Regions from separate parts of the Homo sapiens genome. Here all the other regions are reported to be linked to region 1. Evidence: microRNA targets listed by miRTarBase, many of them from high-throughput screens and not tested one by one. Region 1 holds a microRNA gene; each other region holds the end of a gene's coding sequence.
Evidence for each region. Region 1 holds the annotated microRNA hsa-miR-3189-5p (UGCCCCAUCUGUGCCCUGGGUAGGA, at 2,902-2,926, shown strand). A microRNA usually pairs through its seed, bases 2 to 8, with sites in the 3' UTR of a target mRNA and lowers its output. Matches are read on the target gene's strand: a 7mer-m8 pairs with bases 2 to 8, a 7mer-A1 pairs with bases 2 to 7 and ends in A, and an 8mer does both.

Region 2: miRTarBase lists TIMMDC1 as a target of hsa-miR-3189-5p. Seed matches in the 3' UTR shown: 7mer-m8 at 2,537-2,543.
Region 3: the mRNA of HHAT is a reported target of hsa-miR-3189-5p. Seed matches in the 3' UTR shown: 7mer-m8 at 3,255-3,261.
Region 4: the mRNA of EFNA1 is a reported target of hsa-miR-3189-5p. Seed matches in the 3' UTR shown: 7mer-A1 at 2,186-2,192.
Region 5: miRTarBase lists NHLRC4 as a target of hsa-miR-3189-5p. Seed matches in the 3' UTR shown: 7mer-A1 at 3,859-3,865.

The regions. Positions count from the first base shown.
Region 1 is chr19:18,383,669-18,390,182 of GRCh38, forward strand. MIR3189 (microRNA 3189) reads left to right here and starts at 2,894; the gene lies at 2,894-2,966. It overlaps GDF15 (growth differentiation factor 15), which reads left to right and starts at 2,490. Exons shown (of 2, transcript NM_004864.4): 1 at 2,490-2,798; 2 at 4,618-5,508. The coding sequence starts at 2,522. The coding sequence ends at 5,267. RefSeq lists enhancers at 2,034-2,856, 2,445-2,614.
Region 2 is chr3:119,522,695-119,526,464 of GRCh38, reverse strand. It overlaps TIMMDC1 (translocase of inner mitochondrial membrane domain containing 1), which reads right to left. Exons shown (of 7, transcript NM_016589.4): 7 at 1,375-2,859. The coding sequence ends at 2,709. CD80 (CD80 molecule) reads left to right here. Exons shown (of 7, transcript NM_005191.4): 7 at 716-2,172. Among named protein-coding and RNA genes, the nearest start is that of TIMMDC1, 26 kb to the right of the region's middle.
Region 3 is chr1:210,672,625-210,679,138 of GRCh38, reverse strand. HHAT (hedgehog acyltransferase) reads right to left here. Exons shown (of 12, transcript NM_018194.6): 12 at 2,849-4,851. The coding sequence ends at 4,760. It overlaps KCNH1 (potassium voltage-gated channel subfamily H member 1), which reads left to right. Exons shown (of 11, transcript NM_172362.3): 11 at 1-825. Among named protein-coding and RNA genes, the nearest start is that of HHAT, 350 kb to the right of the region's middle.
Region 4 is chr1:155,133,815-155,136,814 of GRCh38, reverse strand. EFNA1 (ephrin A1) reads right to left here. Exons shown (of 5, transcript NM_004428.3): 5 at 1,916-2,860. The coding sequence ends at 2,748. SLC50A1 (solute carrier family 50 member 1) reads right to left here and starts at 963. Exons shown (of 6, transcript NM_018845.4): 1 at 824-963; 2 at 439-516. The coding sequence starts at 903. RefSeq lists a silencer at 923-1,162 and an enhancer at 1,433-1,522.
Region 5 is chr16:566,253-572,766 of GRCh38, reverse strand. It overlaps NHLRC4 (NHL repeat containing 4), which reads right to left and starts at 5,762. Exons shown (of 2, transcript NM_001301159.2): 1 at 5,692-5,762; 2 at 3,272-5,296. The coding sequence starts at 4,719. The coding sequence ends at 4,348. It overlaps PIGQ (phosphatidylinositol glycan anchor biosynthesis class Q), which reads right to left and starts at 2,799. Exons shown (of 11, transcript NM_004204.5): 1 at 2,671-2,799. RefSeq lists enhancers at 958-1,852, 5,438-5,487, 5,436-6,331 and silencers at 2,483-2,702, 2,773-2,932.

The sequences.
Region 1 (6,514 bases):
GCCAAGATCATACCACTGCACTCCAGCCTGGGCAACAGAGCGAGAGACTGTCTCGGAAGAAAAAAAAAAAAAAAAAGGCTGGGGGCAGTGGCTCATGCCTGTAATCCCCACACTTTAGAGGCAGAGGCCGACGGATGACTTGAGGTCAAGAGTTCGAGACCTGCCTGGCCAACATGGTGAATCACCGTCTCTACTAAAAACACAAAAATTAGCCAGGTGTGGTGGCGCATGACTGTAATCCCAGCTACTCAGTAGGCTGAGGCAGGAGGCGGAGGTTGCAGTGAGCCGAGATTGTGCCACTGCACTCCAACCTGGGGGACAGAGAGAAACTCCGTCTCAAAAAAAAAAAAAAAAAGAGATTTAATCCTAGGGCCACCCAATGAGGAGATAGGAGGGAACCTCAAATCCATTTCCAGGAGGAGGAGTTTGGGGCCATATAAATGTATATATACAAATATATATATTTTTTTAAGATGGAGTCAGCCGGCCGTGGTGGCTCACGCCTCTAATCCCAGTACTTTGGGAGGCCGAGGCCAGCGGATCACAAGGTCAGGAGATTGAGACCATCCTAGCTAACACGGTGAAACCCCATCTCTACTAAAAATACAAAAAAAAATTAGCCAGGCGTGGTGGGGGGTGCTCATAGTCCCAGCTACTCAGGAGGCTGAGGCAGGAGAATAGCATGAACCTGGGAGCTGGAGCTTGCAGGTTGGAGTGCAATGGCATGATCTCAGCTCACTGCAACCTCCGCCTCCTGGGTTCAAGCGATTCTCCTGCCTCAGGCTCCCGAGCAGCTGGGATTACAGGCATGTGCCACCACGACCGGTTAATTTCTGAAATTTTTTAGTAGAGACAGGGTTTCATCATGTTGGTCAGGCTGGTCTCGAACTCCTGACCTCAGGTGATCCGCCCGCCTTGGCCTCCCAAAGTGCTGGGATTACAGGCGTGAGCCACTGCACCTGGCCAGGGGCTAGAGTTTTAATTTTTAAGGATTTTGGAGTGGGCTGAAGTGTGGAGGTCATTGCTTGGTGAAAGAGTGCAGGAGGTGAAGTCACAGACAGTAAGAAACTGTATTCTCATGCAGATTCCGTTCCTCTGTGGGGTCTTCACACTGGTGGGTGTCATTGGTTAAGGATTTCAAAAACATCTTAAGAAATTCTTCTAAAAAGTCTTATGATTCTAAGGTCGGAAATCACATCTATAGCAAATGGTCGGTATCAGGTGCTACAAGCAACTTGCGGTCACAAGGAAGTGGGTCAAAGTGCAGCCTGATTAGTGCTTAATTATAACTAAGTTTCTGTCCAGAATTCTTTTTTTTTGAGACAGAGTTTTGCTCTTGTTGATCAGGCGGAAGTGCAATGGTGAAAACTTGGCTCACTGCAACCTCCGCCCTCTGGGTTCAAGCGATTCTCTTGCTTCAGCCTCTCGAGTAGCTGGGATTACAGGCATGTAATCCCACCACCAAGCCCAGCTAATTTTGTATATTTAGTAGAGACAGGGTTTCTCCATGTTGGTCAGGCTAGTCTAGAACTCTTGACGTCAGATGATCCACGTGCCTCGGCCTCCCAAAGTGCTGGGATTACAGGCGAGAGCCACCGTGCCCGGCGCAGAATTCTTTTTTTTAGAGATGAGGTATTGCCATCTTGCCCAGACTTGTCTCGAACTCCTGGGCTCAAACAATCCACCCACCTCGGCCTCCCAAAGTGCTGAGATTACTGACATAAGCCACCATGCCTGGCCCCCAGAATTATGAATCCTGTGAGGATGGCTTCAAGGTGAGCGCTGAGCCAGACAAAAGGATGGGGTTTGGGAGCACCCTGCTTAGACTGGAAAGATAATGTTGGAGAAGACTTCCTGGAAGAGGGGCTTTTTGCGTAGAGTTTTGAAGAATGAGTAGGAGTTCTCCAGAGGAGGATGAGTAACTGCAATAACACCCAGTTTATCAAGTGCCTCCTATGTGTCTGGCCCTGTGCTTTACCCCTCATTTGACCACCTCTCCAGTGAGAGTCTCAGTCCTTTTTTTCCTGGTGAGGAAACAGGCATGGCAGAGAGGCATGACACATCAAGGTTGCCCTTCCTGGCTCCATCTAGCCCGTTCTCCTCTGCTTCCTTTGTTTTTCACCATCTTTAGCCTTTGACCCCAACCAAAAAGAGAAGAGAGGAAATCCCATGGGCATAGACAGCCACCTCTTAAACTCTTGTCTGGAATTTTTCACATAGTAACAATGTCTTTTTTTCCTCCAAAAAGACTCCCAGGCTGGAATGGTGTCCTCATATCGAGGAAGAGGATACTGAGGCCCAGAAATGTGCCCTAGCTTTACTAGGAGCGCCCCCACCTAAAGATCCTCCCCCTAAATACACCCCCAGACCCCGCCCAGCTGTGGTCATTGGAGTGTTTACTCTGCAGGCAGGGGGAGGAGGGCGGGACTGAGCAGGCGGAGACGGACAAAGTCCGGGGACTATAAAGGCCGGTCCGGCAGCATCTGGTCAGTCCCAGCTCAGAGCCGCAACCTGCACAGCCATGCCCGGGCAAGAACTCAGGACGGTGAATGGCTCTCAGATGCTCCTGGTGTTGCTGGTGCTCTCGTGGCTGCCGCATGGGGGCGCCCTGTCTCTGGCCGAGGCGAGCCGCGCAAGTTTCCCGGGACCCTCAGAGTTGCACTCCGAAGACTCCAGATTCCGAGAGTTGCGGAAACGCTACGAGGACCTGCTAACCAGGCTGCGGGCCAACCAGAGCTGGGAAGATTCGAACACCGACCTCGTCCCGGCCCCTGCAGTCCGGATACTCACGCCAGAAGGTAAGTGAAATCTTAGAGATCCCCTCCCACCCCCCAAGCAGCCCCCATATCTAATCAGGGATTCCTCATCTTGAAAAGCCCAGACCTACCTTTGAGCCTCAGTTGCCCCATCTGTGCCCTGGGTAGGAATATCCTGGATCCCCTTGGGTCTGATGGGGTAGCCGATGCCTGATTTGCACCCACAACGTGGGAGGTTATAACCTGTCCCCAAGTTGCAAATGGGGAAACTGAGGTACAGGGATGCCAGGGACCCTCCTGAATGTGCACAGCACCTGGGAAACCCGGGGACGGGGTCGGGCGTGCGGTGTGGGCATGGTCCCTGACCTGGGCTGGGGCCAGGATCCAAGAGAAACAATGGGGGTGTGGTGCATGGATAGAAGTTTGTGATGGGCAGAGCCAGCTGGAGCTGGTTCTGAATCTGATGAAATCGCTTGTCAAGGCACTGCTAAAGTCACATGCAACGAGCGACTTGTTAGGGGAGGAGGAGAGTATTTTCCCCATCTCTGTGCCCTCCATGGAGGCTCCAGGGGTGCAGGGCACTGGATGAGGTCTGGGCTGTGGTGGGACCCAGGAGGGGGCAGGCAGAGGGGCACACTCTTAGCCCGCCCTAAACCCATCTGTGCCGTGTGACTCCGGCAAACCTCTCACCCTTGCTAAGCCTAGCAACTAGGTTAAGGCACCCTCAAACCCCAGTCTCCCCAGTCTCCCTAACACTTGTACCAGCCTGAGGGGCTGTGATTCCTAGAGGCTCAGTAGTCTGGAATGTGATGGGTTTGGCACTCTTCATTTCTCGGGATTACACCTGTAATCCCAGCACTTTAGGAGGCCAAGGTGGGAGCATCGCTTTAGGCCAGAACATTGCAGCCTGGGCAGTATAGCGAGAATCCATCTCTACCAAAAATGTTTAAAAAAAATTAGCCAGACATGATGGTGTGTGCCTGTAGTCTCAGTTATTCAGGAGGCTGAGGCGGGAGGAGCACTTGAATCCAGGAGATTGAGGCTGCACTGAGCCATGAGTGCCCCACTGCACTCCAGCCTGGGTAACAGCAAGACCATAATAAATAAATAAATAAGTGAAGCAAGTAAGTTTTTGACTGCCAGAAGAAAAGCAGAGCCATGGTTGGAATCTCAGGCTGCCTGAATATCAGATATACATTAATTCCTTCAAGTATTTACTAAGCACCTATTGTGTGCCAGGCACAGTGTCAACCAAGCTAAGATTCTAAGTAGGGAATATGAATGATACACAAGGAAATAAAATAGGGTGCTTCCTATTTTAGGCAGGCTGGAAGGAAGAGGAGGAGCCAGCCATACTGAGATTCAGGAGATTCAAGGGGAGAAATGCCCTTTTTTTTTTTTTTTTTTTTTTTTTTGAGAGGGAGTCTTCCTCTGTTGCCCAGGCTGGAGTGCAGTGGCACGATCTTGGCTCACTGCAACCTCCACCGCCCCGATTCAAGCCATTCTTCTGCCTCAGCCTCCCGAGTAGCTGGGATCACAGGCGCCAGCCACCATGCCCAGCTAATTTTTGGTATTTTTAGTAGAAGCGGGCGTTTCACCATATTGGCCACATATCGGCCAGGCTGGTCTTGAACTCCTGACCTCAAGTGATCCACCTGCATCGGCCTCCCAAAGTGCTGGGATTACAGGCGTGAGCCACCGCGCCCGCACGGAGAAATGCTCTTGGTAGGGGAAATAACTTGTGCAAAGGCGCCGCCGCCGTGGTGAGATCCAGCTTGGCGTGTTAGGGGAAATGGGCACCCTCGTTCCTGGAAAACGGTAGGCCTGTGGGTGACCAGCTTCCCTATCTGTCTTCCCACAGTGCGGCTGGGATCCGGCGGCCACCTGCACCTGCGTATCTCTCGGGCCGCCCTTCCCGAGGGGCTCCCCGAGGCCTCCCGCCTTCACCGGGCTCTGTTCCGGCTGTCCCCGACGGCGTCAAGGTCGTGGGACGTGACACGACCGCTGCGGCGTCAGCTCAGCCTTGCAAGACCCCAGGCGCCCGCGCTGCACCTGCGACTGTCGCCGCCGCCGTCGCAGTCGGACCAACTGCTGGCAGAATCTTCGTCCGCACGGCCCCAGCTGGAGTTGCACTTGCGGCCGCAAGCCGCCAGGGGGCGCCGCAGAGCGCGTGCGCGCAACGGGGACCACTGTCCGCTCGGGCCCGGGCGTTGCTGCCGTCTGCACACGGTCCGCGCGTCGCTGGAAGACCTGGGCTGGGCCGATTGGGTGCTGTCGCCACGGGAGGTGCAAGTGACCATGTGCATCGGCGCGTGCCCGAGCCAGTTCCGGGCGGCAAACATGCACGCGCAGATCAAGACGAGCCTGCACCGCCTGAAGCCCGACACGGTGCCAGCGCCCTGCTGCGTGCCCGCCAGCTACAATCCCATGGTGCTCATTCAAAAGACCGACACCGGGGTGTCGCTCCAGACCTATGATGACTTGTTAGCCAAAGACTGCCACTGCATATGAGCAGTCCTGGTCCTTCCACTGTGCACCTGCGCGGAGGACGCGACCTCAGTTGTCCTGCCCTGTGGAATGGGCTCAAGGTTCCTGAGACACCCGATTCCTGCCCAAACAGCTGTATTTATATAAGTCTGTTATTTATTATTAATTTATTGGGGTGACCTTCTTGGGGACTCGGGGGCTGGTCTGATGGAACTGTGTATTTATTTAAAACTCTGGTGATAAAAATAAAGCTGTCTGAACTGTTCCCTGTGGTGTCCAGGATAAGGGAAGGTGACCTTGAGAAGATCCTCCTCTCCCTGACCTCAGTTTCTCTAGGAGACCTGGGAGGGGGTAAGTGGAAAGGCTCAAGGAATGAGTGGCAAGGTGTTCTCGGAGATGCCAAGCCATTGGAAGGTGCTTACGACACCTGTGGGCTCTAAGGGCAGCCTTGGCCATTCCTGACTCCCTGACTCTCTGTCTCTATTTCTCTATCTCCTTATTGCTGTTTCTTTTTTCTTTTTATTTTTTTTAGACGGGGTCTCACTCTGTTGCCCAGGCCGAAGTGCAGTGGCACAATCACAGCTCACTGCAGCCTCAACCACCCGGGCTCAATCGATCCTCCCACCTCAGCCACCTGAGTAGCTGGGACTACAAGTGCATGCCATCATGCCCAACTAACTTTTGTATTTTTTGTAGAGGCTGAGTTTCGCCATGTTGCCCAGGCTGGTGTTTCTGTTTTGGAAACAGCTGAGACCCCATACCTTTTTAAGTCTCAGCTTCCCTCCATCTTTCCTCATTCCTCAAAACTTCTCTCTTTGGGGTCTGAGGCAGAGGATCTGTCTCTGTCTTTGTCTCTATCACCATCCTGTTGCTCTCCCCACTTGGGAGTCACCTTTCCAAACACAGGCAGCTCAGAGCCAAGTCTATCTGCAACCAAGTGCCTTGTTTTGTGGTACTGTCCCCAACCTGAGGGGTTAGTCCCATCACCCCTCCTGTTTGTGGCACTTCCATGTTAGTGACACCTCATTCTTTCACATATAAAGAGTAGGGAGAAACAAATAAGTTGTGAAGAATATTTTCATGCACACCACATCTCCCAGGTTATATATACTTCCTGTTTAGGATGTTGGAATTTTGAGGTGTGCTGAGTCCAGCCCCCTCTCCACACCAAACTGCCTGCCCATCCTGAATCTCTGAGAGGAATGGCGATGGGTGTCTTGAGGGACAGAGTACCCACTTCCAGCAGTGAGGTGTATCTGCTGGGAATGCCA
Region 2 (3,770 bases), not on the chromosome of region 1:
ACTGAATGCTTGCTCACTCCTCAGAATGTCTTTTCCAGGATGTTGCTCTGGCTCAGTTCTGTCATTATCTACAATTTTCTTGACTTTCTATCTAAAAAGTCTTCTGCTCAGTCTGCTGATACTTCAAAATGAAGCCGTGTACCCAATCTTCTACACAAGGCCTTCTGTGGTCATCTTGTCTAGCTCAAGCAGTTCCACCTCTATAGCACATCTCATACCACCAGCATAGGTTGATTTTCATGTACCACATCTTCCTTCTATCCTTTACTGGACTGTATGTAGGTTTATTGAGAAAAGCAACCATGCCTGAGAGCCCCACACATAGAAGAGTGGCTTGATCAAGCATTTGGTCGTTTGGTAATAGCTGGTAATAACTAAACATTTGCCTGATCGATATTTCATGTGACAAAAATTGCCAGAGTAGTTTTAAGTTCTCTCATAATTCAGCTTTCCCTTCATATTCTTCAGCTATCAAGGTTACTGTGTACAAGCTGGGAATACCCTTGATCTTGAGATTAAAATGTAAATTAAGAGATTAAAATTAAGATCTTATATTTAAAATATATATATATACATATATAATTAAATTATATATACATATATACATATATAATTTAAAAATTATATATGTATAATTTAATATATAAATAAATTTAAGATGTTTTCCTCCTTTGCCAATATAGGGTTTGATGTAATCATTTCTTTGTTTTCTCAGGTCCCACCTCCATTTGCAATTGACCTCTTCTGGGAACTTCCTCAGATGGACAAGATTACCCCACCTTGCCCTTTACGTATCTGCTCTTAGGTGCTTCTTCACTTCAGTTGCTTTGCAGGAAGTGTCTAGAGGAATATGGTGGGCACAGAAGTAGCTCTGGTGACCTTGATCAAGGTGTTTTGAAATGCAGAATTCTTGAGTTCTGGAAGGGACTTTAGAGAATACCAGTGTTATTAATGACAAAGGCACTGAGGCCCAGGGAGGTGACCCGAATTATAAAGGCCAGCGCCAGAACCCAGATTTCCTAACTCTGGTGCTCTTTCCCTTTATCAGTTTGACTGTGGCCTGTTAACTGGTATATACATATATATGTCAGGCAAAGTGCTGCTGGAAGTAGAATTTGTCCAATAACAGGTCAACTTCAGAGACTATCTGATTTCCTAATGTCAGAGTAGAAGATTTTATGCTGCTGTTTACAAAAGCCCAATGTAATGCATAGGAAGTATGGCATGAACATCTTTAGGAGACTAATGGAAATATTATTGGTGTTTACCCAGTATTCCATTTTTTTCATTGTGTTCTCTATTGCTGCTCTCTCACTCCCCCATGAGGTACAGCAGAAAGGAGAACTATCCAAAACTAATTTCCTCTGACATGTAAGACGAATGATTTAGGTACGTCAAAGCAGTAGTCAAGGAGGAAAGGGATAGTCCAAAGACTTAACTGGTTCATATTGGACTGATAATCTCTTTAAATGGCTTTATGCTAGTTTGACCTCATTTGTAAAATATTTATGAGAAAGTTCTCATTTAAAATGAGATCGTTGTTTACAGTGTATGTACTAAGCAGTAAGCTATCTTCAAATGTCTAAGGTAGTAACTTTCCATAGGGCCTCCTTAGATCCCTAAGATGGCTTTTTCTCCTTGGTATTTCTGGGTCTTTCTGACATCAGCAGAGAACTGGAAAGACATAGCCAACTGCTGTTCATGTTACTCATGACTCCTTTCTCTAAAACTGCCTTCCACAATTCACTAGACCAGAAGTGGACGCAACTTAAGCTGGGATAATCACATTATCATCTGAAAATCTGGAGTTGAACAGCAAAAGAAGACAACATTTCTCAAATGCACATCTCATGGCAGCTAAGCCACATGGCTGGGATTTAAAGCCTTTAGAGCCAGCCCATGGCTTTAGCTACCTCACTATGCTGCTTCACAAACCTTGCTCCTGTGTAAAACTATATTCTCAGTGTAGGGCAGAGAGGTCTAACACCAACATAAGGTACTAGCAGTGTTTCCCGTATTGACAGGAATACTTAACTCAATAATTCTTTTCTTTTCCATTTAGTAACAGTTGTGATGACTATGTTTCTATTCTAAGTAATTCCTGTATTCTACAGCAGATACTTTGTCAGCAATACTAAGGGAAGAAACAAAGTTGAACCGTTTCTTTAATAATGCTGATCTACTTTTTGTTGAATTTGTATTTTATTTCAAGTGTCAAAGAAATCATCTTTGTTTATTTAGATGAAACCAAACACTACACATTTACACTCACACTGCTTCCAGGACCCAAGGGTTTCACAGACCATTTGCCTACCTGGTTCTTTCCTCTCCTCTTTCCAGTGATTTCTAGAATACCCTTTCAAAGGACCACATGAATATACGAACTGTAAAATTCAACTTTAATCTTTTGCGAAATGTTTTATTTACTGCTTAAAATCTAGGTGGGTGGATATATTCATGTATGCATATATTGATAGATTAATACAAACATAAGTATGTATTTAAATTTAAGGATAAGTAAAGTGAGAGTACAACAGCCCCATTCTTAGTTAAAAAGAAAAGAAAAAGACAAGAGCAAGCCACTGCCACCACAGGTACCAGCACTTAAATTTGTCAGCAGGCTGACCAAAGAGTGGCCTGTCTGTTGGCATTCATCGGACATGGCAGCTCCCTTCAGCTCTCCAGTGAGTTTCAAGTTCAGAGCACTTTCAGTCCTTGTCTTGTTTATCTATTACTGAAGGGTTTCTAGGAAGGTTTAGCAGTGCTTCAATTTTCTTAGCATCATTCTCAGGTTCATCTTCCTGTAAACTACTTTCAATTTTCTCAGGGAGGTGCTCAGTAACTTGTAGTCTGCCTTTCCTGTAATCAGATAAAAAGGATAAATCAAATACTGCTCCATTTCTTTAGTTCTTACAGATTTAAAACAAAAAGGATAGCATTTGTCTTTTCCTCCCTGCTTTGGTATAGCAATTTAGAAGCAAATACTGCTCCCTGAACTTCAAATACAGTAACTTTCTTCTCTCTCCTAACCTCACAAGCCAATTATGATTTCCACATTACCATAATGGATACCGTTGTGGTGACAGCTCTGATCCATAAGATATTCCTAGTATGCTGGGTCCTAGAGTTCTCACAGGAGTGATGTGTGGGAACTGACACACTTTGTGCTAAGGTGTGAAGGCTTGAAGTCTCGCTGTCCTCTTGCTCCCAGGGCTGGGGGAATGTAAGTACCCTGCCACTCTTAAACTCTGTGACCAGACCTTTTAGGAACTGGTCAAAGGCTATAACAATGGTAATCCAAGGTAGAGAAAAGTCAGATAGAACAAAACTATAGATTTATATTTATGAAGAGTTAAAAACTAATTTCCAAATAATAGATCAGTTCTGTTTCTAAATCAAGTATTAGTGTCTTCCTTAAGTGATTATCGGGATTAAAGTTTCTTCTCAACTCTTCACAGATTTGGTCATTTGTTCTTCTATATCTCTATAGTCAGTTTTCTACATTTTCTGCTCATTGAGGCAATTTTTTTGACTCTCAATTTGTTTGATTTTCCTGTATTATTTTCAAGCGAAGAAGTAGGCACATACAAGACACTTAAACGTTTATTAACTCTCCTTAGAAATATCTCACACACACACACACACACACACACACACACAAACACCCATACGTGTATATGCTATACAATTTTGACACTTTCATTCTGCCAAAGTATTCTTTCATTACTATGATTCAAGTTGTTTTTATCCATCTGTCTTAAAATTGATAC
Region 3 (6,514 bases), not on the chromosome of region 1:
ATGATCCTCTCAGCACTGACTGCAAACATCAGAGAAAAAAACATTTTCTCACCAAAGGTGTTCATGTTGAGAAGTTTTAATTTCTACCCCCTACAGCTCAAAAGAATCAATGTGAATTTATCTGCAGCTTAAATTCAAGTGAAACTTCATTCTCATGCAAGCATATCAGACTTATTCTGGAACCTCTAGAACTGGACTTGAATTCCCTGCAGGTGCCAGACTGGTGGGTGCCCTCCCTGCCTGCCATTAAACTTTTCTTACAGCCACTGTCCCTTTATCTGTGACTTCTGAGTCATCCGACGGATCCATTAGTTGTTCAATGAGAAGTTCACAGATCTTGTATCAGGATATAAACTGATCTTATGTTGAAGGATGCACCCTCCCCTAATGAATGTATTCTCTTAATATTCCGATGCTGTATTTGTGCATCAGTTGGAGACTGTCCACATCCGACATTTCACCGACACCTCAAGGACACTTCTACTTATGAGCAGTTCATCATTCTGGGGCTTCTCCTTATATTAATACTCTTTCCATTGAGTCCTGCCAAATCCTTTATTGGGTTTTCTTTTTCCTTTGCATCTGTCACTTTGTCCAAATGAGCATGAATAAACAAAAGTGTAAATGAGCTGATACTATTTTTGTGGTCAGCTGAGGATGCTGCCAAGAACACCACTGTATATCTGTGGCTTGGGAATGTTAAGAGGAACGTGCAGGCCCTTCCATTGATGATATTCCCTTCTCAACATTTTTAAACAAGCACAAATGATATTTGTAAAAAAAAAAAGTTTTATTTATTATGGTAATAAACTATTTTATACATGATACTTGCTTTTGCCTTTCCTTACATTACTTTTAGGTCACTGAATTGGCTGTTCTGACCTAAGATGACAGAACAAGGATGGTATTTTCTCTTCAAGAGTTTGGGAAGCTCTTATTTGGACAGCACTTATAGTTTTTTGAGAACTTAAAGTCCAAGATTCACCAAGATTGTGTGTCAAAGTACCAAATAGTGAGAGAATGGACATGAAGGTATGCAGCTGTACAATCTTAAAGTACAGCTGCAGCTGCTGTACAAGGGCACAGATGTTGACTTCAGTGCCTGGGATCACGGAAAACTGTATGACACACGGATCTGAGATACCCAAAGCTGACACCTCCCACCCCACTTAGATGTACACTTTTTTATTTTGAAAACTTTGGATTGAAATTTGTATAAAATATATTAATGCTTCCCTCCTGCCTTTTAAAACGTAGTATGAAGAATATAACAATCTTTTTTGAATGACTCAGTGTCTACAATATGAGCTCTGATCTGTGCTTTACACTTCATTGATAGTCTCAGAAGCTATTAAGTTAGCTTGCCTCTAATCGAAATAGTCCCATACACCAGCATGGTTTCAGTTTTGCTATTTTAATCGGTGTTGCTTCCTGCTCATGGCAAGGCTCCACAATACTGCCAACCTGAGTCCTTATTTACCATCCAGTGGACCACATTACAAACATGGCACTTCTCTTATTATAGACAGTATAACTTAATTAGGAGATGAGGAATCTGACCTACAAGCGTCTACTTGATCTTATAGGATCACAGTAGGGGTACAGTATTTTTAATGTTTCCTTACCCATGATTTAATCAAATTGCACAAAAGCATTATAAAAATAATAAGGGTGATATTGTTTAAAATTCCAAATTATTGATGTTTCAAAATTATCACTAATAACTTATTATTCTTTTTTTTTTTTTTCTTGAGACAGGGTCTCACTCTGTTGCCCAGGCTGGTCTCAAACTCCTGACCTCAAGTGATCCATCTGCCTCAGCCTCCCAAAAGTGCTGGGATTACAGGTGTGAGCCACCACACACAACCTAAAGCATTCTGTCTGATCTCTTCAATGTTGCAAAACATCTCTGTGAATATGATTCTTGTAATTAGTCAAAAGGACGAGTAATATAGAGCTAAGTAATGAATGCCATGTTTTGGGTGCCAAATGGAGTTCAATGATTTTAAAAAGAGGGTTTTTTGTTTTAAAATAAAACCATTTCCCTGAGAAAGCCTCAGAGAGGCTTTCTCAAAATGTGCTGAGGCCAGTAGTATCATACTTTGGCTTCTCATGTTGTCCACACTGAAGGGAACCCTATTGTATGGATATATTCTGATACATCTGCTAAAAACCAAACTCATTATATTACGGTTAATTTACTATGTTTAGTCAATGGTTATATTATTATTCTAAATAAGCAAGTGAGCAGTCTCACTTTCTGTCAGGAGAAGCCACCCCCTCCCCTACCTAAACTGCTATTCTCCCAGTATATAGATTATAATACAATTATTTGTTCATTGATTTATTTTTTCTTGAGGCCTGCTGTCTTTAATGAAACAAAATGTTTTCTGCTGACACTTCAAATTAATTTGAAAAAATAATACCTTTCAGTCTTCTTGTGTGGTCCCAAGAATTAGAATGACTGAGGTTTGGGTGTCCTTCAGGTATCTTGCTTCCCTCCTTGGGTAGCATCTTGGCGATTGTGCTTGGAGCTCTTGGGCTTGCCTGCAGAGCGAGGCTGGGATCAGAGGATCCAGGCGCTGGAATTGACCTTGGGACCTTGTCTATTCTTTTCCCAACACTGCGCCTGAAGTTGCCCAGGGCTGATGACATGTCCAGTGTCATTGCCTGAACTCCTCTGTGCGCCCAGGCACCACCATTCAGAGTAACTACAAGATTTTAGTGAATATGCATGAGGAGAGAAGCATTATCATTTTCATATTACAAGTGGGGAGTAGGAAGAGGTTAAGCAAAACAATGGTCCTGGATAATCCACATATTAATTAATCAGCCTCAAATACAGAGCTAAACACAGTAATCATTTATTAATTCCTGAGAACCATTATGAATCATATAATAGTTTAAAAGAGATTCAGGATTACCACTTTCAAATATATCCACTGACGCTTCCAAAGTAGTTTAATGAATGAATAAACCTATTTGTTTGTATATAAATGGTATACTTGGAAGAGCTCAAAACTTTTGTATTACTTATATGTGCACATACATTAGACACTTCCCTATCATCATTTTTACTCCCTTTTTTCTTAGCAAGCCCTTTCTTTCCAAGTAAACTTCAGTCAGACTCCCTCTGGCTGCCCACAAATCCTCAATCACTGTTGGTCCATGAAGGTTTACTGCGTTCATTTAGGTGCTCACTCCTCCCTGAGGCTCATCCCCTCCTAAAACTTCTGAGCACCCCGGAATTACTGGCCCCATGTCTCTCTCTCTCCTTTACCAAGACAGCTGCTGAGGCTGCTGCTATGCAGGTCTACCTGCCCCTCTCTGGCCTCTGTCTTGCTTTAACACATAATGTGCCTACCCCAGGTAGTCAGTATCTGGCCCCCTCCCATCTCTTTGCCAAGCAGAGAAGCTATGAAGAAAGACAATCAACAAAATGGTCCTGTACTCTAGGAGCTAAAGCCTCATTGAGATGATAACCTCAACTCAAGACATAAGGGCCATGCTATGTAATAAACAGGAGGCAGCACTAGGTCCAAGTGAACCTTTCACTCAATGACAACTTAATTTACGTACTTGAGATGTTGTAAATTCTCCTGTAATTAGATATATTATGGATTCAAATTTTAAGCCTCCTTTATACCCTTCCCCACTCCAAAAAAAAAAAAAATCCAAATTCAAACAAGTCTTCTGAATTATCTACCACTTGGGAACTTTGGTAGCCTATCCAGCATCTTTTCAGAGGAGTGAATAATCAAGTTATGTGAGTATATTTAGATTTTAAACATTTTCCTCAAACATATTCAAAATAATTCTACAAACATGTAGATTATCTACAGGACAGAAAAGGCTCTGTTTGAATCAAACCTTAATAATATAAACCACTAAACGTGAATCACTGAGTAGGAGGATGACTTTTGAGACTTGTATGGAGAGGGTGGACAAGACTCCAGGACACCATCCTCATGACTGGCCTTGATAACACCCATCTGTGGGTACACTATCCTGTGGTTTCTAAATTCTGCTTCTTTATTAAGAAACGATTAACTGTAAGGTAGAGGAACTACCATGTTATACTTCTCTGCAAATCTCAGAAACAAGCACCCAAATGTAGATCACCCTGCTGAAGCTCAGATCACAGGACTCCTTGGGTATAGATGCCTTAGAATGCTACAGGGCTGCTACCGTCTTCTTCGACTACGTAATTCAAAAGACAGCTGTGGCTTGGTCTCATTCCTACAGAGGGGCTGAAGCATGAAACTCAAACCCTAGTGCTGCTTCTGGAGATACTGCAGGATGTGATGAAGGAGGTCACTTAAACATCAATGTCACTCAAATATTTTAGAAATATTGCCCAGAAGACAGGCCTATCACTAATCAGGATTTCTGTGTCTCAATCAATAAATTTCCACTACATTCTATTCTTGCTTAAGGGGAAAGAATGCAAAGGGCTCATGAGACTAGGTTCTAGACCAAAATGTCACCCTGTGTAGCTGGGTAAGACACACGACTGCCCTGGACCCGTTTCCTCAATAGGAAAATGATGAGTTGGGGTAGAAGATCTCAAAGACTCCAGATTAGAAGATTGTCTGGCTGTGAATTTTCTATGAGATCCAGCATCCAGTCTTGGAGTGAGGGCATTCAACTGAAGATGAGCAGATCAAATCCCTTAGAGGCTGTCCTGGAGTGAGAGGTCAGGGTGAAGCACTATTTGCCTTGGAGGCCAGCAACAAGGACTGGCCTGGGCCCAACAGCATTAGTCCGTGGCGTAGGTCTGGGCCCAGGCAATGCCCACGTGGGAGTAGCAGTACAGGAATCCCAGGACAGAGAGGGTCACCCAAGGCCAGCCTGCAGAGGGAGGACAGAGATGGAAGAGCAGTTAGAAATGCTTGGGGCAGGACATCCCACATGGGCAAACTGTCCCCTTTTGGAGAAGGCAACCTGACAAACAACAAAGGCCTCCAGGAAAGTCTGCTGTAATGACAACTTCAGCAATTGAGTCCTACATTCCCATCAGAGTCAGCATAAAATGAGGAGTGCACTATTGCAAACACAAACCATGTTTATGACGAGTTAGTGGGTGCAGCGCACCAGCATGGCACATGTATACATATGTAACTAACCTGCACAATGTGCACATGTACCCTAAAACTTAAAGTATAATAAAAAAAAAAAAAAGAAATAGGGCAAGCTTTTAACGAATCCATGTTTAGAGCCAGGCACCTGTAATCCCGGCACTTTGGAAGGCTGAGGTGGGAGGATCACTTGAGTCCAAGAGTTGGAGACCAGCCTGGGAAACATAGTGAAACCTCATCTCTACCATAAATAAATAAATAAATAAATAAATAAATAAATAAATAAATAAATAAATAATAAATAAGCCAGGCATGGTGGCATGTTTCTGTAGTCCTAGCTACTTGAGAGGCCAAGGAGGAAGGATCACTTGAGATCAGGAGTTAGAGGTTACAGTGAGCTATGAGTGTGCCACTGCACTCCAGCTTGGGCCACAGAGTTAGACCCAGTATTGGTTTAAAAAAAAAAAAAAAAGAAGAATCCACGTTTAGAGGACTAAAGCAGTTAGTAATTGAAAAAGGAAAAAAGTCCATGAGTCTGAGTGTAGTCTCATGTGGCACTGTAAACATGTAGGTCATGTTCCAAAATCTGTACTTTTAGATGAGTTGTTTGAAATCAGGGTACGTTTCCCCCTAGAATAATATTGTGTGATTCATGGACAAGACACAAAAATCACCGTCATCATCACCGTTGTGTGTTTTTTTTTTTAAACTTGTAGTAAATGTGAAATAACACTAATAGGAGCTCTGAGCCCTGGGGCACTTAGGTTCCAGAAGCCCAAATATAGGGTCCTCTGTCCTTCTTGGTCAGCCTCCCCAGAGGTTTCAAGAATTCTAAGTGGTGAGGGGTGGGATAGAGACATGCAGACGTGGCTTGTCCTTGGCAATGAGACAGGAAGGCGCCAGCAGCCAAGAGGGAAAGGGTGCCGGGCAAGATCAGGAGGGTCATTTGATTGGGGCATCACAACATTTCACAGAGAGCTTTATAAATTTAAATTTTTGACATTTCTTTTGAATATGGCTAGCTAGGAAGTCATTACCTTTGTCAATCCAATTGTGTGTGTTAAAAGAAACGAACGACTGTGAAATGTAGGCATTTACAATGAACTACATTTTTTTCTTAAAGTCCATGAGTCCCATAGTAAATCTCAAAATGTAGATTAAGCATTATACTGAATTTAGTGCCATTTGTAAGCACACAGAAGGGGGAGCCTAAATTAAATATTTGCTTTCAAAACTGAAAGCTTTTAGTGATTCCCTCTACAAATACTTGTCTTAGAATATCTGATGTTCTTTTCTTTTTCTTCTTTTTTTAAAATTAACAGCCCTTTCTGCTGAGTATTTGTTACTTAACAATCTTCATGTCTTCTGCATGTTTCACTTACTCAAACATTTACTGGGGGCTTTGGAGAGCCAGAGATGCTGGGGAAGATACAAGA
Region 4 (3,000 bases), not on the chromosome of region 1:
GGGATGGACATGGCTCAAAGGGTTCAGTGTGAGAGGAGGACCCAAAGGGTCTTTCACTCTTTTTTTTTTTTTGAGACGTAGTCTCGCTCTGTCGCCCAGGCTGGAGTGCGGTGGCACGATCTCGGCTCACTGCAAGCTCCGCCTCCTGGGTTCACGCCATTCTCCTGCCTCAGCCTCCCGAGTAGCTGGGACTACAGGCGCCCGGCACCACGCCCGGCTAATTTTTTGTATTTTTAGTAGAGACGGGGTTTCACCGTGTTAGCCAGGATGGTCTGGATCTCCTGACCTCGTGATCCGCCCGTCTCGGCCTCCCAAAGTGCAGGGATTACAGGCGTGAGCCACCGCGCCCGGCCAAACCTCTTTCACTCTTGCTCCTCCTGCCCCGCCCCCACCTCCCTCTGGTAGCCTTTCCCACTACCGCAGCCGTCGGCCCCTCACTTGACTTCCGTGGTGAGAAAGGGCAGGAACTGGACGTTGTCCACACTCCGGGTCATTCGCATGTGCCTGAGGTCCGAGCTGTAATGGGGCCCCGAAGGGAGGGGTGGGGGTGGGAAGGGAGAAGCAGAGTGCTAGAGGGGGATGCCCAATGCCTGTCATCCTTTCCGGACCACCGCAGACCCCGCCCCCTCTCCCCCCCGCCAGCTATCCTGCCTTCTCCTTCAGGCCTAGTGACCAGCCTCGCCCTTGTACCCCGGTCCCCTCGACCCGATCCCACTTTGATCCCGGTTCCGGACGAGCCAGGTGCTGTGGCCACGTCTCTGTCCCCTCTCTCTCCTTTCCTGACTGCCTAGTCCTCCCCAACCCAGCCCGGCCGCACTCTCACAGGCCGGCGGAGAACATGCCAAGGGTGAAGACCACGCATGCTCCGTAAATGAGCGAGTCCAGAAAGCCGCCCGCCTCCATTACGACTAGAGTCGGATCCCGCGCCCAGCGCCCGCCGCGAGCCTGCGGTTGCCGGGACCTACTGCAGCCCAGACCTGCGGCTCTGGAGCCCCGCCCCGCGCACTCGGCTCCGCCCCCGCACGCTCGGGCCGTCCCTCCGGAAACTGCGCCGAAGCCCCACCCTCCCTCCGACGCCGAACCGGAACTCGCGCCCCTCTCCTCCGAGCGCCTTCCCAGTACCCTGGTCCAGACCTCTTCCATGTCCCGGTCAGTCCCCTTCCTAGGGCTCCGCGGGTGTGTCCCCGATACCTGCCGCTGCTCACACTCTGCCTACCCCTTGGATCATCTAGACGCCCCCAGTCTCAACGCTCGTGTTCCCACAGGCCTGTGCGCCTTCGGCGGTGGACCTCCAAACAAAAGCTTGCTAGTTTAACAAGACTTCAGCACGCTTTCCATCCAGAGCTCCACATCAGAACCTCAGTTGCCCAGGGTTTGGGAAGTTTTTTTCTGGAGTGTGCTGCCGAAGCTTTTTCTCAAAATAACACATTACCAGGAATCACCAAGCCTTCCTCTTTTGCCCTCCCTCTCGGGTCAACTTTACATGACGTGGCCAATCCACTGACGCCTCTATCACTGACCCCCGGTCCAACCCACTTGTTACTGGGAACTTTCCCTCCCAGCCTCCCACACGTCTCTGCTAGTGTGGCTGTGGGGCGGGGCCGCATGCCTCAGCTGGCGTTCCCAGCTTCCCTGACTCACCGAAACAGCGTGAGTACCTGAATGGTAGTATGCCAAAGCCCTGCGGTGACGGAGTGGGAGTGGGGTAGAGGTCGGATAGGAAGAACTTCCAGAGTGGAGTGCAGCTCAGAACCCGAGAGACAGCTGTCAGGAGCACTCCGGTCCTGGACAGCCCTCAGAGGAGGAAACATCCCACCCTTTTGGCCTCGTGAGGGGCACACATTCTTTGGAGAGAAAGAAATTCAAACCCAGTTGCTACTGTTGTAGCACAGAGAGCCTCGCACTTAGCAGGGACTCAATGGTCATATGTTTTAATATGGAGTGGCAGAAAAGCATGTCCGAAAAAACACATTGCTTTATTTTGAGACAAAGAACATTGTATAAAAAAACTCCAGTTGTAGAAATCAGGACAGACACACAGCAACTTATATACAGATACTATACACGTGGGCCCTGCCCTTTAGGCTACACTCTAGGCAGAATGTACACATGGGCACTGCCCTTACAGCTACACTCTAAGAACAGGTTGGCACAGCCCCCCTGCTGGCACAGCTCTGGGGAGTGCTGCCCCAGGATGGGAGAGAATGCAGTACCTGGCTACAAACTTCTCTGTGGCAGCTCCACAGATGAGGTCTTGCTGGGAGATGCTGGGTCAGCCCAAGCATGCTGCCTCTCCTGTACCTGGCTTCCAAGCAAGAAACTGTTTCTTGCTTTTCCTTCAGTCAGTTCATCTGGGCATCCTGGCTCTCTCCTGGAGGGGGCATCTTTGACAAGCTTTGCCCATCCACGTGGCCCCTTCCAGCTCAGCTCCCACTGTGCCTTAAGGGACCATGCCTGCACAGCTTGTTTCTTTGGCTTAAAGGCAGGAATGGTGGGAAAGGACTGTCTCCACTTCTTTCTCCATCCCTCCGAGGTGAAGGTGGGGATGGCACTGTCGGGCTGGTTGGCCTCCTTCCGGTTGAAAACCTTAATACTGACCCGTTTTGAGGCTGCTAGGTGATAGCTTATGCCTGTGGTGGGAGTGGTTCCCAGGGCTGGGGGCTCTGAAAGTGGCCCCAAGACAGGTTTGGAGTGCCTGTCCCTCTCTTCAGCCTGTCCCTCTTTAAGGCCAGGTGTGGCATACACCTTCACGGGGTTTGCAGCAGCAGAAGTGGAAGGAGCAGCACAGTCCAGGCAAGTGGGAAGAGGCGTGGGGCAGCACTGTGACCGATGCTATGTAGAACCCGCACCTCTGGGTCATCTGCAAGGTGAGAGGGCAAAGGCCACCAGTGTGAGTGGCTCCACTATTTGTACTGGCTCTCAGCCCAACAGGATTCCCTCAGCCTCAGCCTGGTAAAGGAGCCACCTCCTGTACCCAACCTCTTCAAGCAGACCCCTTCC
Region 5 (6,514 bases), not on the chromosome of region 1:
CGGGACGCCTGGAGGTCCCAGTGCCCACCACATCCTTAGGGACGAGGGAACAGAGCGGGACGCCTGGAGGTCCCAGTGCCCACCACGCCCTTAGGGACGAGGGAACAGAGTGGGATGCCTGGAGGTCTCAGAGCCCACCACGCCCTTAGGGATGAGGGAACAGACCAGGATGCCTGGAGGTCTCAGAGCCCACCACATCCTTAGGGACGAGGGAACAGAGCAGGATGCACACGTCGGGGTGGTGTGACCTGTAAGTCCTCTCCCGAAGCTTGGAGGGGCTCTGGAAGAGGCCTCACACGGAAATGCCTGGGGCTTAAGAGGCCCCTGGTGCAGCTGCTCTCCTCCCCTGCAGGCAGCCCGCACTGGGGCTGGAGGATCCAGTCACTCAAGGCGGTGGGTTCTAGCTGAAAAGGGACCTTCTGGGTCAGGCTGCAGAACTCCTCAAATGCCCATTTCCTCAGTGGTCAGAGAGGGCAGGCGGCGGGTGGATGCCTGGAGGCCAGCTGACGTGAGGCACCAAGGACATCGTGAGAGGGACAAAGTGATTCTGCCTGCAAGGGGCCCAGCGTGTCTGGCTGTGTGACCACCATAGGGGACCACCCAGTACAGCCCACCTTTCACACCAGCTCAGCCCAGGGACCCATCACGCCCTGCTGGGGAAGAGCTTTCACAGGGACTAAGGAAAACTGCCCACAGATATCGTCGGAAAAGAAACACAATGGGTCTAACAGTAAACAGATGTTCTAGGGGGAGCTGGTTCTGCGGTGGGCTCACTTTGGGTAAATTCACCGAGCTACGTGCTCACGATCTGTGCGCTTTCTTTGTGTGTATTCTTTGTGCTTCATCTACAAAGTTTACCTTAAAAAAAAAAAGTGCCTTGTGTCTACCGAAGGAGATGGGAGGGCAGAAGCTACTCTTCTCTGTCGAGTAGTGAGAGAAAACTCAACGTACTGTGGGGCAAACGCCCATCACACTCCCACCTCAGCCTCTGGGACGGTCGGCGGCACAAAGAAGCCTGCACTAGCAGCTGCTGGGATCACACAGCCAGAGGAAGATGAAAGAGAAGCGATCGATAGCAGAGGAGGTATGGGACGGGAGAAAGCAACGTGAGCATCTTTAAAGACTGAGGAAACACACACACACACACACACACACGGGCGCCAGGCTAGCCACACACACACACACACACACACACGGGCACCAGGCTAGCCAGACACACACACACACAGGCGCCAGGCTAGCCAGACACACACACACACACACACACACACACACACAGGCTAACCAGACACACACAGGCTAGCCAGACACAAACACACACACACACACACAGGCTAACCAGACACACACAGGCTAGCCAGACACACACACACGGGCACCAGGCTAGCCACGGGTCCCAGGCTAGCCAGACACACACACACACACGGGCACCAGGCTAGCCATGGTTGCCAGGCTAGCCAGACACACACACACACACGGGCGCCAGGCTAGCCACACACACACACACAGGCTAGCCAGACACACACACACACACACAGGCTAACCAGACACACACAGGCTAGCCAGACACACACACACACACACACGGGCGCCAGGCTAGCCACGGGTGCCAGGCTAGCCAGACACACACACACACACACGGGCACCAGGCTAGCCAGACACACACACACACACACACACACACACACACACACACACACACACACACACACACACACACACACACACGGGCGCCAGGCTAGCCAGAAGAGCTTCCTCTGCTAAGAATGAGCCCGAGTGCTCTTGAGAAGCCATTCCCAGACCAGGCAGGTAGGGAGGTCGACCATATAAAGTAGTAAGACTAAGACTTCCCTCTCCTCCCCGTGAATGAGGGAATGGGGGCACCCCAGCCCAGTTAGGACGGGCCAGGGCCATCTCTGGCTGAGCCGCCCCTCCCTGCCACCGCTCCACAAGAGCTCTGGAGAATTTGCGTTTCCCAGCGCCTTGTTTGAAAAATAAACACCAACCTGGCGCGGTGGCTCACGCCTGTAATCCCAGCACTTTGGGAGGCCGAGGCGGGCGGATCACTTGAGGTCAGGAGCTTAAGACCAGCCTCGATGGGGGTGAAACCAAGTCTCTACTAAAAATACAGAAATTAGCCGGGCGTGGTGGTGGGCACCTGTAATCCCAGCTACTGGGGAGGCTGAGGCAGGAGAATCGCTGGAACCCGGGAGGCAGCGGTTGCAGTGACCCGAGATCGCGCCATTGCACTCCAGCCTGGGCGACAGAGCGAGACTCCCTCTCAAAATAAATAAATAATGAAAAACAAACACGAGTTCAGCCTGGGCAACATGGTGAGACCCCGTCTCAAAACAAACAAACAAACAAACTTGCTTGCCTTCCTCAAGCAGGGCCTTCCCCTCTCATTTGGGAAGAGCCTACGATTCCGTTTTTTGCCCTTTCCTGCAAACCGGGACAACTGCGAAGGGCCCACAGCCAGGCCCGGGCCGCCGACCGCCCTTGCACAGGGTCCACAGGGGCCCAGGTCGGCGCGGGCCCGGGGGCGGCCCCACTTCTGGGAGGAGAAAGCAGCGGCGCCGCGGGCGGGAGTGCGGAGCCCCCAGCCCAGGCCCGGAGCCGCAGGGGCGCTGCCCGAGGTCCCGCCGCGCGCCGCCCACCCCCCCTGCTCACCGGGTGCTTCCGGGGCCGCGCGCTCGGGCGGCGGGGTCCGGATGGGGTTGGGGACCCCGATGGGCGGGCCCGGGCAGACGACGGCGCTCGCTGCCTCCAGCCCCGCCGCGGGACCCGAGCCCCACTTCCGCCGGCTCCGCGCGTTGCCGCGCGACGGTCCGGCCCCCAAAGGCGCCCGGGCTGCCCGCCCGCCCGCCCGACCCGAGCGTTCCGCGGCGCAGCGTGCCCGCCCAGTCCCCAGGCCCGGACCTCCCGAGCCTGCCTCCGGGCCGCCAGCCCCGCGTCAGCTCGGTTTCCTCACCTGAGAAACTGACTGGACCTGGCCTTCGTGGAACCCGGACCCCGCCTGGCTCCCAGCCTCCCCAAGTGAACAGGTCCCCAGGCCCTGCGGGATTCCAGGAAGGCCCCAGCCCCAGCCCGGTCCCGCCCCCGTCACTCTGTTGTCTGCAGAGGGGCCGCCCCCAGATCCCCAAGGCCAGTGGTGCCGGGAATTTTGAGCCCTGGTAGGACCAGCCCAGAGGCTGCCGCCAGCGATCGTCAGGAGAGAACACACAGGCGTCCAGCCCCTCCCGATCCCAGGAACAAGACCCCAGCCCAGACCTCAGCGGCAACTCCGTTTATTGAGCACCTAACTACATTGCGCAGTTAGTCCCCCACCCACAGGACCCAGACATATGAGGGACCTCTCAGGGGGGATGTCCTGTGATACAGGGGAGCCCCACCTCCCCACCCCACAGGGGTAGAGCCAGACACCGTCCCCTCCCAGCTCCCTCCCCCATACAGGCCCTTCCCTGGACCCCAGACCCACGGAGTAACCCAGACGCCTCTCCTTTCACGCCTCATTTCCCCACTTGTAAAATGGGAGGAGAGGGTTAGACCCCTATTTTTTCTCAGTTTTCCAAAGCAGCAGGAGTCTCTCCTTGTAGGAAGCTCCCCCAGACCCTCCCAGCACGGCTGCACTGGGAGGACAAACAGCATGGAGCTGTTTGTCCCTGTCTGCAGAATGAAGGCCCAGACAGCTTTCATTCATGGGGACGCGGAAGAAAAGGCATCCAGGGTTCAGCCAGCCATGGGCCTCCAGACACTCCAGGGTTGCCTCCCCCTTACCTCTGCCAGGCCCAGAGAAGCTACTGGAGGCTCAGGACTCTAGGTCCCTCTGAGGTTGGGGACATTTAGGGGCCACACCCCTGCCCCAGGCCGCCCCGCCCAGCCCAGCCCAGCCACACCCTCCCTGCCTGTCTGCCCCCGATTAGGAGGCCTGGGCAGGGGCACCTGGTGGGAGAGTCTGCCTAGCTGTGTGCCGGCAGCTGGCCCAGGATCTCAAGGCTTCAGCTGCCAGCCCCAAAGTCCAGGCACAGGGCCTGAGGGGGTGTGGGGGGCATGAATGCAGGGGCCAGGGCACTGAATGGGGACAGCAGAGAGCAGCCCTGGCTGGGGAGGCTGCAGGCCTGGCAGGGGCAGCCTGGGAAGCAGACTCAGGGCTGCTCCTGAGATCCGGAGCCTCACCAGCAGGAGAACTCGAGCCAAGCCCAGGGCCCAGCCCAGGTGGTGCTGGCATCAGGCAGGCAATGCCCATAGCCTGGAGGCTCCACCCATCCTGAGGGTTCCTCCCGCGGTGATCCAAGGGCCTGGGAGCTGGCCTCAGGCACAGGAGGGCTGCTCCAACCCAGCCTCAGGTCAGGCCAGCTCCTTGAGGCCCTGGTACACCTTGATGGAGTTGTCCTTGGCATCAGCCACCAGGAGCTGGCCCTGGGGTGCACAGGCCACTCCCAAGGGCTGCCCAAGCCCCTCTGACACCAGGCAGATGGGTGGCCCAGCCCGGGGAAACAGGGTCACCTGGCGCCTCTGCTCGTCTGCCACAATAACATTGCCCTCTGAGTTGGAGCAGATGCCCGCTGGGCAGCCGAAAGTGTGCCCCGTCCAGCCCCCCAGGGAGCCCAGGGGTTGGCGGGCACTGCCAAACAGCCTCACATCCCCAAACTCCTCACTCACAGCAAGGCCCCCATCAGGCCCTGGGCCCACCCAGCAGGGGCCCTCCAGACCCAGCATGGAGGCTGGGGCCAGGGGCTCCCAAGCAGGACCCAACGAGAAGCTGTGCACAGCCCCAGGCAAGTAGTCCGTCACCAGGAGGCGGTTGAGGGCATCCACAGCCAGCCCTCGGGGAGACAGGAAGGTGCCCACTGTCACCCAGTGGCCCCCGGGGTCCCGGGCTGTGTGCTGGAGTGCATGGACAGCCCCATGGATGGGATCGCTGACCACCACAAGCCCTGACGCTGTCACAGCCACGTCCTCTGGAACGAAGGCCCCGCTCCCCGGAGTGCGGCAGGGCAGGAGGCAGATGGGGCGTCCCTCCAGATCTAGCACGTGGACACAGGGTGCAGCCCCGGCCGTGAGGAAGAGCAGGCCATCGGGGGAGCAGTGCAGGCCCCGGGGCCCTCCCACAGCCCCTGCGGGCACCCGGATCCACCCAAGCAGCCGGAGCTGCCGGGAGCCCGTGGAGTCTCCAGGTGGGTCCAGTGTGAGGTGCAGACACCTGGAGGCCAGAGTCCAGTCAGTCCGAATCACCGTCTCAGCTTCTCTGCAGCTGGGTCACGCTTGGGGCTGCAAGAGAGAGAATAAGGCCCCACTGTGTGTGGGAATGGCAAAGTCACTCCTCCAGTTTCTTCCTATGAGGCCGGGTCCTCCTGGTCCTGAGGGTCTACCTGGCCACCAAGCCCAGCGGCCACCCTAGTGTCTAGGTGCCTGGGACTTGAGTCTGGGAGACACATGACCCGTGGAGCTCGCTGTGGGTTTTCCCCTGAGCCCCAGATGAGCTCATGGGCCTCAGACAGATAAGCAACATTTCTCAAATCCATCTGCCTGTGGAACCCCTTTCTACGGCGGGGGGGCGGTCACCCACACACAGCCCTTCTACCCGAGCCCCTAGGTCAGGGAGACTTCTGACCCCTTAGGGGCGAGGCAGCCTATTCCGAGGGCCTCCACCTGCCCCACCGAGAGAGGCCGGGGGGAGGGGTCTCTTACCTGGGCCCTGTCTCGCTGGGCCCTGCTTCGGGGCTGGGTGGCTGCAGCCTCTGTTGTTGGAAACTAGAACTGGAGGAAGTGGGAGGAGCCACTGGCAGGGACGCAGCTGGGCCGGGTGGAGGAGGGAGAGTGCAGTCTCCGGCCTTGGCCCCTGAAGCTTCTATGAAAGAAAAACCAGGTCCCCTGAGGACTCCCCATGCTGTGGTGTTCCTGCCTCCGCGCCTTGTTGCAGGCTGCGCCCTCTGCCCGGACACTATTCCCACGTCCCCTACACGGCCAGATGCCATGCAGCCCACCCCCCTCCAGGGGTCCCCCATGGTCCCCCCACAACCAGCAAGTTCATTACTCCAAGTGGCAAGGCAGCCCCAGGCTGCCACCCCCAAGCAGGGTCCTTGGGTCTGGACCACAGGCGGGTGACCTGCTGGCTGAGGCACCCTCCATGAGGCCTGTCCTGCTCCCCACGGGTGACAGCGAAGGAGGTCGTGTCTCCACACCTGGGAGACGGGTGCTGTTGCCCCCAGCAAGGCCATGCTCACCTGTCTGCTCAGTGGGGGTGAGAAACTGAGGTGCAGTGGACATATGGGGTGCAGTGGACATATGGGGGGCGGGGGCTGAGGACAGGGAGTCTCCCTCAGACTCGGGACTTGGGAACAGTTCCTGGCTGCCCAGAGCCCCCTGCAGCCCCTCCAGGAAGCCTCTGGGTAGAGGGGCCCGGCTGGGACCTGTCCCCACAGCACTCCGCGCCTGGCCAGGCAGCACCCCAGCTCTAGCTGCCCCGAGGCAGGGTCGGGGCTGATGCTATCTCCCTGGTAGTTAATGGGGC